Linked DNA regions of Homo sapiens: region 2 is linked to region 1. Evidence: fine-mapped expression QTL. Tissue or cell type: whole blood. Region 1 holds a variant in brackets; the other region holds the start of a gene. All regions are shown on one strand. Distances are between the middles of the regions.

Evidence for each region. PIP is the estimated chance that this variant, and not a neighbour inherited with it, causes the effect.
Region 2: it holds the start of DOK1, and the variant in region 1 is fine-mapped to the expression of DOK1 in whole blood (TOPMed, PIP above 0.99).

Annotation. Positions count from the first base shown.
Region 1 is chr2:74,693,325-74,698,757 of GRCh38, forward strand. It overlaps a transcript of SEMA4F not described here. Among named protein-coding and RNA genes, the nearest start is that of SEMA4F, 42 kb to the left of the region's middle. The variant C/A (reference allele first, on the strand shown) is at 3,193.
Region 2 is chr2:74,551,516-74,556,948 of GRCh38, forward strand. It overlaps DOK1 (docking protein 1), which reads left to right and starts at 3,205. Exons shown (of 5, transcript NM_001381.5): 1 at 3,205-3,299; 2 at 3,639-3,938; 3 at 4,060-4,153; 4 at 4,379-4,563; 5 at 4,793-5,433. The coding sequence starts at 3,240. LOXL3 (lysyl oxidase like 3) reads right to left here and starts at 2,427. Exons shown (of 14, transcript NM_032603.5): 1 at 2,361-2,427; 2 at 807-1,131. The coding sequence starts at 1,119. RefSeq lists silencers at 1,247-1,541, 1,527-1,821, 2,547-3,296 and enhancers at 1,527-1,821, 3,305-3,822, 3,447-3,506.

The DNA.
Region 1 (5,433 bases):
ATGTTGGCTGGAACTTCCAGAACTGGCCCAGACAGAACTCATTCTTGACTTGAACCTGATTTTATAGCAGTGCCTTTAGTATTTCACCATTGTTTTTCACACTTCCTCTTGGTTTCTAATAGGTTTGTAATACAGAGGGAGTCTTTGCATTACCTCTAACACTAACAGGGTTTTATATTTTTCTTTTAAGAGGATAGGATGGATGTTGAATTATGTCAAATATCTTCATAAGCAGCCAGTAAGATGATGGTATAGTTTTTCTCCTTTAGCCTGTGAATGTCCTAGTGCTGAAGCCACGTTGGTTCCTAAGATCATCCCTGTGTTAGTGGTTTTGCAGATCGGGAAGGTGAAGTTGTTGCCTTGAAAATATTTCAGAAAAGGTAGCATGCTTTATAACCTGTGCTATACCTGCTCTTTTTAACTGTAAATCAAGGAAATTGTCCTCTATCAGTTCATAGGGTGTTTCCTCATTTTTTTTTTATTGCTACAGTGTTCCTTTGTGTGGTTGTGTCATAGTTTGTTTATTCAACCAGTTCCCAGTAGTGATAGATATTTGAGGTGTTTCCAGTCTTCTGCTGCAGTAAGCAACCCCATAAATCCATTATTTTGTAGGTGTGTGGATATACTTTAAAGTAAATTCTCAGAAACGGGACTGCTGTGTTAGAATGAACCAGGAAGCTTTCAGCCTTTTAGAGATAGATTACTAACAGATAAACTCTGATAGACTCAGGTAAACAGAGTTTAGACAACTTGGCTATAATATATTCCTATGTTTGATAAAACATCTGCAGACAAGACAGTTGAGCCTGGAATTGCTGCACGTGTGTGTGCATGTGTGTGTGCGTGCTTCTTTCATACCTTTTATGCTTTCTTCTTGATATTCATGCTTTCTCATAGCGATTCACATCCTTCAGTCTCTCATTTTTTTTAATGCACTTAGATTTTCCAGCACATGATGGAAGCAAGGAAGGTGATGAAATCATTGTTAGACATTGAGCAGCTTGGGGCCAGACACCTTGGCAGGTGCTCTGAGTATATTATTTCGAACTCTCATTTCAACCACACCAAGAGCCCTTTTGAACTCTTTTTACAAAATGAGGAACCCAGAGCTCAGTTTGCTCAAGGTCCCCAGCTAGGAAGTAGTAAATGCAGAGTTTGAAGCCAAGTCTATCTGCTCCACAGCCATATCCTCTTTATTAGCCACACCCATCCAGGATTTTTCCCCCAGCGTTCCTATTCCCAGTCATTCCCAGCTAACAATGAGTTGGGAAAGACTGATGCGTGGTGACATGTCCTAATAGTTAAAAACAATACCATTCAGCTTCTGGCTTATTCTTTTAAATAACAGCTCTGTGTTGCTATCTTCATTTTGATGCCAATCAGGTAAAATTAACAAACACTTGTGGAACATCTTTCAGGTGGAAAGCATGAGGCTAGTTGCTGTAGGGAATACAGAAGTGTAAGTCAAGACTTATGCTGGACAAGCTGAAGCTTAGTCTTGCCAAGCAATATGTACATTGACTGGTTAATGTAGCCTGTTTCTTTTTAGTGCTGAATAATATTCTATTGTCTGGATGTGCTGCAGTTTATTTATCCACTCGCCTCCTAAAGGACATCTTGGTTGCTTCCAGGTTTTGGCAATTATGAATGAAGCTGTTATAAACATACATGTGCAGGTGTTTTTGTGGATATGTTTTCAACTCCTTTTAGTAGATACTGAGGACTGTGATAGCTGGGAGGAGAATTTTTTTTATTATTTGAAATTTTGTTTTTGAACTAAAATGGTTTTTAAGGAATAAAAAGAGGAAAATTGTTGTGCTGGGATCTCTGCGTGTCTCAGCAGGTTATAGCAACACTGTCCACAACAGCATCAGACACTCAGCCAGATGTGAGTCGAGTTGCCTCCCGTGTAGCTGGGAGCAGACTCAATTGCAGAGCTGGTGTCTTATACTCGTAGAGCTCCTCTATCCTCCTTGAACCTTCAGGCTCTGTCTCCATGCTTCTCACACAATGATCTCCTTTGCACAACCTCAGAGCACAACAGTGCTTCTTTTCTGCACAGAGCACTCCCCTGTCTGGACTTTTGTCGTCCTCAGCCTTGCCTTTTTCTCTCCAAATGTAGCAGAGCAGTTGGCTCACCTTGTTTTCCATATCCTCTACCCATGGATTTCTGTTATCCCTACTCCCTCATCCCTACAACCCTCAACAGAAGTAAATCCAAATCAATGAATAAAACAACTGGACTTTGTCATATAGAGGGTAATTCCCCAAGAAACAGGACGCTGTATTAAACTCTTTCAAAAGAGTAAATGAGTTACCTTTTATATGACCAAATTGCTTTCTAAAAGGACTAATCCAAGTTAAAGTGCAAATTTAAAAGCCTCTGAATAAAGCCTAAGAGAGAAGTACATGGCATGGACGATTGACAAATATAATCCAAGAGCAGGAAGTAACCAGATATGAATTGTGAGATGCTGGGAATTCTCCCGAAGTTGGTGTCAAACATACTCATTAAACTTGATACTGTCTGTACAACGAAAGGGCACAGAAGGGAGTGGTAATACAACACAGGGTGCGATCCAGGAAAATACCTTATTTATAGAAGAGCAAGGCTGTAAGGGACTGAGAGCATACAGGGCCACCCTAGTCTCACAGCTGAGCAAATTCAGGGAAGCCAGGGCCCCACCTAAAATCAAATCTGAACCTCTGCCACCTAGTTCAGCACTCTTTGCCCATTTAGAAGGCATTCTGAAGTGATTTTGAAAAAATCTTTATTAATTTCTTTTTTGCAAAGTTAAAATATTCATGATTAAAAATATATATATAAAAGTTTGTATACTGAAAAACATCTCTCCTGCCTCTTTTTTTTTTTTTTTTTTTTTTTTAATTGAGACGGAGTCTCACTCTTTCGCCCAGGCTGGAGTGCAGTGGTATGATCTTGGCTTACTGCAACCTCCACCGCCCAGGTTCAAGCGATCCTCATGCCTCAGTCTCCCAAGTAGCTGGGACTACAGGTGCCTGCCACCATGCCCAGCTAATTTTTTTGCACTTTTAGTAGAGACGGGGTTTCATCATGTTGGCCAGGCTGGTCTCAAACTCCTGACCTCAGGTGATCCACCCACCTCGGCCTCCCAAAGTGCTGGGATTACAGGCATGAGCCACCGCGCCCGGCCCTGCCTCTCTTATTAATTT[C/A]TTCTGTACCCTTCTAGTGTTTCTTTGTGAAAATACAATCAAATATAAAAATGTGGGAAGGGGGTGAGGGATAAAAAAACTACCAGTTGGGTTCAGTGTACACTGCTCAGGTGATGGGTGCACCAAAATCTCACAAATCACCACTAAAGAACTTACTCATGTAACCAAATACCACCTGTTCCCCAAAAACCTATGGAAATAAAAAATATTTTTAGAAAAGAAAGAAAAAATTAAAATATTAAAATGCATTCTTATTTCCATTATTTTTTACATAAACAATATATCAAGGAGATCCTTCCACATAAGTGCATAGAAAGTGTCCTTGTTCTGTTTTAAATTATTGTGTTGTAAGGCTGAATCATAGTATATTTAACTAATCTCTATTTATGGACCCTGGGGTTATTTCTAATCTTTTGCTCTTACAACCTGTGGCGTCATAACTAACTTTGTACATATGTCATCTCATAAGAATGTATATCTGTGGATTCCCAGAAATGGATTTGCAAGGTCAAAGAGTAATTGCATGTGTACTTTTGACGAATATTACCAAAATACTTTCCCAAAGGCCTGTACCATTTTGCATTTCCATGAACAGAGTAGAAGTGTGCCTGTCTACCCACAGCTAGAGTTAGCCCTTGCTGGAGATCTGTCTTCCCAGGTTATAGTCTTCTTGGACTAAGATTAAATTCTTTCATCTCTTGAATACATACTTGGGGGCATTAGTCCTGAGGCATGCTGGGTGACATGGAAAACCAGCATTGACTCAAGAACTTGGCATGGCTAGAGCTCAATGTATAGTCCAGAGTATCAGTGTCTGTCACCCCAGATTAGCTCTTTCTTGCACTTCTCTTTGAGAGGCTGTTTCTTAGAATAGCCTTGAATGTTGGGCAATCAGGTGATCAATTCTAATTTTATCCTCAAAGTAATCCTGGAGAAGTGAGGGGGCAGATATGACTTCCGCTTGACAGATGAAGAAGCTGAGGCACAGAGGGAAGAGATAGCACCCTCTTACTACCCTCTTCTCTTCTGAGATGAGCCCCAGTTGTAAGATTGGGGTCTTGATGAACTGGAGAGCATTTTGAGAGGGCAACACTTTGAGGTGGGGTTGCCTCCTGCTGGGGAGGTGCAGATCATTCAGAGGGAGTAGAGAGCAGCACATTGAAGGCCTCTCCAGGCTCCAGGCTTTAGATAGAAGAAAGAAACAATCTTTAGTTCAACTTTGATCCCTAGTTTACTTGTGTTCTTGATGTTCCTTTGGGCCAGGGGCTGGACCTCATTCATCTTCGTACCTGGAACCTCTAGGATTAGCAGGGCCAGGGCAGCAGTACAAACAGAGGATCCCAGCCCCCAGTCTTCCCCCTTCTCTTCCTGGCCCTGGCTCCATCTTGCATCTCAAAAAGCCCTGTGCACTGGCCTCAGCCACCCCTCAGGCCTGGGAGTTCACTCACAGGCAGCAAGGTCCCCTCTCCAGACCCAGAGAAGATGCTTGTCCAGGCCCTGGAATCAGGATCAGGACTGTTTGGATAGGAAATTCCAGGGTCCCAGGTACCTGCAAGATGGCCCAGAAGGAAGTTTGGACTCCAGATGGGCACATCCCTTAGGGACCATAGATTTCCCCAAAGAAGAACCCTCTAAAACATAGGTCCTAGGTCTAAGAGTGATGCTATGGGAAATAATCCAGTTAAATCATGAATTCAAAGGGACTAGACAAAGCTGGAAAATCCAGGTATGAAAAAGCTAGATGCAAGTCAGAGAAATCTGTTCATAAGAAGGTTTTAAATGGGGAGAAAGGAAGCAGAGGTTGTAGGAGCCACATAAGCAAGAAAATATAAGTATGATACATATTATGGGATGGGATGGGATGGAGCTGTCATAGAGTTGGGGTACATTGTCTTATAGATGTTCATGGAGCTGGCTGTAAGTGGGAGCTATCCTTTTCCAGACAGCAATTCTTGTCTTCTGTCCTCTGCTTAGAAGGCAGAGGTATCTGTAAACTCAGTCACAAAAGTCCTTCCCAGCCTGGTTGTCAGGCCATTTTACTCCACCCAGATTCAGGGGGCCCTGCCTCAAAGGATATCTCGTTAGGTTTGTTGAAACAGAACCTTAGCACAAAGGCCCTACTGCAATACGAGTCATGCCAAATCCATATCCACTGAGAGGTTCCTTACAAATATAACTAAGTACAAATACCTCCAAGAAAGTCATGCCATGGTGAGTTTTCCTTTGACTATCAGTCCTTCC
Region 2 (5,433 bases), 140 kb before region 1:
GCCATTGCTATGCAAGGTTTTTACTTTCCATATCAATCCCCTGATTCTTCAGCAATTCCTCCTTGAAACTTGGCTTCTGAATCTTTCACATCTAGGCAGCTCTCCTCTGAAAGTATTTCCATTTTCTACTGTCCCTCTTAAAACACAGCATCTACAAATGACACTTAATTCCACAGGTGGTCTAGCCAGTGGGAACTGGGGAATCAGCTGCAGGTTGCACCTGCTTCTGTCCATCATTCCCACTGTGGGTTCATACCATGGGCACAGTCCTAGGCCTCACCTAGGGAACTGCTCTTAAGCCTCCACCACCCACACTCATACTTGTCCTAGATTTTATACTTGTCCTTAGACAGTACCACCTTGTTAGTTTTAGCTCTGGCCCATAACCTGATTTTGTTAGCTGCAGTGTCTGTGACCCCTTGTGACTTTGGGACATCCAGATATCATTTACCTGCTCTTAGCGTCCCATGAGACTAACTGTACTTTATTTGTACAGGGCTCACCTGTATCTGGGCTGTTTTGTGGATGGCTTTGTAGGATCATACTTTTGCAGCAGAAAAGAACTTAGACATCATCTAGTCATTTTGCATACAGGGCATCTGAGGCTCAGAGAAAGCACTGACTAGCCTAAGGTCACACAGCTCTGGGAAGTAACTATGTTGCTTGGTTTGTCATCCATGGATTTACTCAATGCTGGCTGTTCTTGGTGTCGTGTGTCCCTATGGCTGTGCCATCCTCGTGTTCCCTTTCCCTGCACTTTGGCCACACATAGGAAATATCTAGGATATGCCTGGATCATTGCTCACCTGTTCCAGGGCCATATTTGGCACTGTGGGTCCAGCCTGTGGCCTCTGTGAAGCCCAGCTCCCGGCAGAGGATGTGGGCAGCCTGCAGCGTGAAGTCATCATCGCAGATGGTGCCCCATTCACCAGCTCGCTGTATCTCCACGCGGCCCTCGTAGGGCTTCCTGGGGAAGCCAGCCAGCCGGAACCGAAGCCCCTGGCTCCCGGCCTTCTTCTCAGGGCCCGTGGAAGGGGACGGAGACCCCAAGCACGAACTGCACAGCAGGCACAGCAGCAGCCCCCAGGGGCTCCACTGCCAGACACTGACAGGTCGCATGGCAGGGAAGGCCTGGGTGCCCCAGAGACAAAGTGTGCGTGAGAGAAACAGATTGAGTGGGGCCCAGAGTCAGAAAGAGAGGGAGAAGTCACGAAAGAAAAACAGACACTGAGTAAGACAGAGACAGCGAGAGACAACAGGAGAGAAAGAGCCCCAGGGACCAAGAGACAGGGAGAGAAACACATTAAATAAGGGCTGAGGCACAGGTCATAGAGGCACAGCCTGAGAGACCCAGAGATAAGAGACAACTATGAGAGATCGAGAGTCAGAGAAGGGTCAATAAAAAGAGATAGAGACTGAGCAAGAGACACGTAGAGAGAGAGGAAGACCCAGACAGACAGGATGTGAGAGGAAGGGAGACTGTGGGAATGAGAGAGAGAAAACCAGAAAGACACAGAGGAGAGAGACAACGGATAGAAAGTGATAGGCAAAGAACTAAGCACTCAGTATAGGGGAACCAAGCACACCGCGGGTGAGAAGGAGAGGGATTGACAAGAGCCAAGGGGCGGACGTGGGAGGGATCCAGATGACCCCATTTACTCAGAGGGAGGACAGACAGCTGTACTGATTGTGCAGAGAGGCACGTAAGGGGCCCTAGGCGGCCCTGGGATCACAGATCCCCTGAATGGGAGCCCAGAGTCCTAACCCAGCAGATTCCCAGGCAGGGAAGGCTGGCACCAAAGCTCGCCTGGAGAACCTGCTGCACGCCCTCCCCAACACGCAGGCTCTCAGATGCCCTGCAGGGTCAAGAGGCCCAGGAGGGCCAGGCCTCAAGGCTGGGCGGGGGATGGGGTAGGGTTGTCCCAGCCTCCTGCCAACACCACCATCCCTGTCACCGGGCAACGGGAGGCCAGGCGCTATGGCTCCTCAGCCAAGGCCTTCTCTGCCTAGGGCTGAGAACAGCCCCTCTACAGCAAGCCCCCGTCAACATGCTTCCCCCAACCCAAACAATCAATCCAACAAGGCAGCTTTGTTCTGGGTTGGGGACCCAGGGGCAGCGCCTCCCGGAGGAGCCCCCTCCCTTAGGGCGCTCCTGGCGGCCCTGTTCGAACACCCGTAGCCCCCGCCTCCGGTATGTGCCTCCTCCGTGTACTCTGTCTCACTTGCCCTTTGACAAGAATCAAACTCTCAGTTGGGTGGCTTCCCCTCGACTCCATCCCACACCACCCGTTTTCCCTGGTCCCTCCACATCCTCTCCATCCCCTACTCATTCCCTCTGCGGTTAGCGTGACTCCCCCTACCTTGGCCGAGCAGGACCCTAAGGGCTGGGAGAAGAGTGCTGGTCCTGGAGATCAGTCCTAGGACTTCCAAAAAAAAAAAAAAATGCTCGGCCAGGGGAGACTGGACCCCCCTCTCTCCCCCTTCTCCGTTCGTCCCTCCCACATCCCCCTGAGCCCTCCCACATTCCGCCTTCTCCTTCCATTCCTCCCGGCCAGTTCCCTCCTCTCCTCCTCTGGGTCCTCCCTCCCCGTGGAGCTGGCCACTGCCGCGCCCCCTCCCCCTCCCTGGCCCTCCCGGCTCGTTCAATGAAGCTTTCTCTTCCCGCGGCATGGAGGCCAGGCCTCTGCGGTCAGGGAGCTGACATGCAAGCGGCGGCCGGGCGGCGGGGCGGCCCCGGTGGTGGCGGGAAGCGGTTCAACCCCAGCCCTCCCTCCGAGTCCCGGGCCAGCGGAGTCTAAACAGCCCGGCTCGGGCGGGGCTGGGGGCGGGCCCGGCCAGGGTAAATAAAGCCCCGGAGGCCCGTGTGGGTCTCTCCGGTGCCCGGGGCGCTTTCGGGGTGATGTCATGGCTTTCACTCTGACGTCACCTTGGGCATATGACGTCACGCGCAGCCACCACGCCCAGAGGCCAGGGCCCTCGCGCCAAAACCGAGGACTTTCGGTGGAGCCACTGGCGCGCCCCCACGACGGCGGGTAGGGGCCTGGGGTGCTGCAGCTCCCGGCTAATCCGGGGGTCTCCACCATTCCTTCTCGCTCCTCTCCCTCACCCCACCGCGACCCCCCCAGCGGCTGCCGGCGGGGGCCGGGGAGGGGCGGAAACTCCTCCAGGGAACCCGGCCCCGCCTCCCGCCCCGCCTCCCGCCGCAGGGCCAGGAAGCGCGGAAGGAACCGCCGGGGGCCATGGACGGAGCAGTGATGGAAGGGCCGCTTTTTTTGCAGAGTCAGCGCTTTGGGACCAAGGTAGTCTGGCGCATGGATGCCGAACCTTATCCGGGCTAGTAGTGGGTGAGAGAGCCCAGAAACAGGGAGAGGTGGGCAGCGGGCTGGAGAGCGGCGCCGGGAGTTGGAGAGCCTGTGACTTTCCCGTGAAGTTGCTTTGCACACTCCCGGGAAGCGTCTGTAGTCTAGGGGTTCTGGTCCTGGGGAGACGGAGTGGCATCGTCCTTGGGAAACTTCGCCCCCAACCCCGTTTGGAAGCCCCAGATCCCAAATCGACTTGCGCCGCAACCTCCTTCCCCGTCGGGACCCGGGCCGCCTGCGCACGCCACTCCCTCTCGAGCACTCTCTCTCTCTCCCTAGAGGTGGAGGAAGACCTGGGCCGTGCTCTACCCGGCCAGTCCCCACGGCGTAGCGCGGCTCGAGTTCTTTGACCATAAGGGGTCGAGCTCTGGGGGTGGCCGAGGGAGCTCGCGCCGCCTGGACTGCAAAGTGATCCGTCTGGCTGAGTGTGTGAGTGTGGCCCCCGTCACCGTGGAGACCCCCCCTGAGCCCGGCGCCACTGCCTTCCGCCTGGACACTGCTCAGCGCTCGCACCTGCTGGCGGCCGACGCGCCGTCCAGTGCAGCCTGGGTGCAGACGCTGTGCCGAAACGCCTTTCCGGTGAGGAGCTGCGGCGATGCGGGGTGGGGGCAGTTACAGAGGCAGAGAAATGGGGCTGCCTCAGACCGACCCCCGCTCCCCGCTGAGGAAATTACGGGTTTCTCGATGCTCTCTACTACAGAAAGGCAGCTGGACTCTGGCGCCTACCGATAACCCACCTAAGCTTTCTGCCCTGGAGATGCTGGAGAACTCCTTGTACAGCCCTACCTGGGAAGGTAGACGCCTCAGAAGCCCGGGCAGGGATGGAGTGAAGAGGAGGAGGGCCGAGGGCCTTTGGGAAGTGGGTGGATACCCAGGGGCCCATGGGGAAGTAAGAAGTAGGAAGGCCCTGAGATCTGGCTTCCGAGTGAGTGCTTGGACACTATGCTCATGAGTCCTCTGGGTCCCCACTGCTGCCCCCGTCCCTCCCCCGCAGCTGTCTAATCGTGTATGCCTTCCAGGATCCCAATTCTGGGTAACGGTGCAGAGGACTGAGGCCGCCGAGCGCTGTGGCCTGCATGGCTCCTACGTGCTGAGGGTGGAGGCTGAAAGGCTGACTCTCCTGACCGTGGGGGCCCAGAGTCAGATACTGGAGCCACTCCTGTCCTGGCCCTACACTCTGTTGCGTCGCTATGGCCGGGACAAGGTGCAGGGGCTGTCCGGGAGGGCTTCCTGGGTTGGGCAGCTGTGGGAGGGGTGGGGCAGGACAGAAAGTGGGAAGCTCTGACCTTTGGATCCCCCTTTCTTGCCTACCCGGTGACCCCGCGTCTGTTCGCAGGTGGTCTCTTCTTTGTAGATACCCTAACTAGTGCAGGCGTGTGACTCACTTCCTCTGATGGCTCCTGGTAATGTGTTTCCCCCTCTACCCTCCTTAGGTCATGTTCTCTTTCGAGGCCGGCCGCCGCTGCCCCTCAGGCCCTGGAACCTTCACCTTCCAGACGGCACAGGGAAATGACATCTTCCAGGCAGTTGAGACTGCCATCCACCGGCAGAAGGCCCAGGGAAAGGCCGGACAGGGGCACGATGTTCTCAGAGCTGACTCCCATGAAGGGGAGGTGGCAGAGGGGAAGTTGCCTTCCCCACCTGGCCCCCAAGAGCTCCTCGACAGTCCCCCAGCCCTGTATGCTGAGCCCTTAGACTCCCTGCGCATTGCTCCATGCCCTTCCCAGGACTCCCTATACTCAGACCCCTTGGACAGCACGTCTGCTCAGGCAGGAGAGGGAGTACAACGGAAGAAACCTCTCTATTGGGACTTGTATGAGCATGCGCAGCAGCAGTTGCTGAAGGCCAAGCTGACAGACCCCAAAGAGGATCCCATCTATGATGAACCTGAGGGCCTGGCCCCAGTCCCTCCCCAGGGCCTTTATGATCTGCCTCGGGAGCCCAAGGATGCATGGTGGTGCCAAGCTCGGGTGAAGGAGGAGGGCTATGAGCTCCCCTACAACCCTGCCACTGATGACTACGCTGTGCCACCCCCTCGGAGCACAAAGCCCCTCCTTGCTCCCAAGCCCCAGGG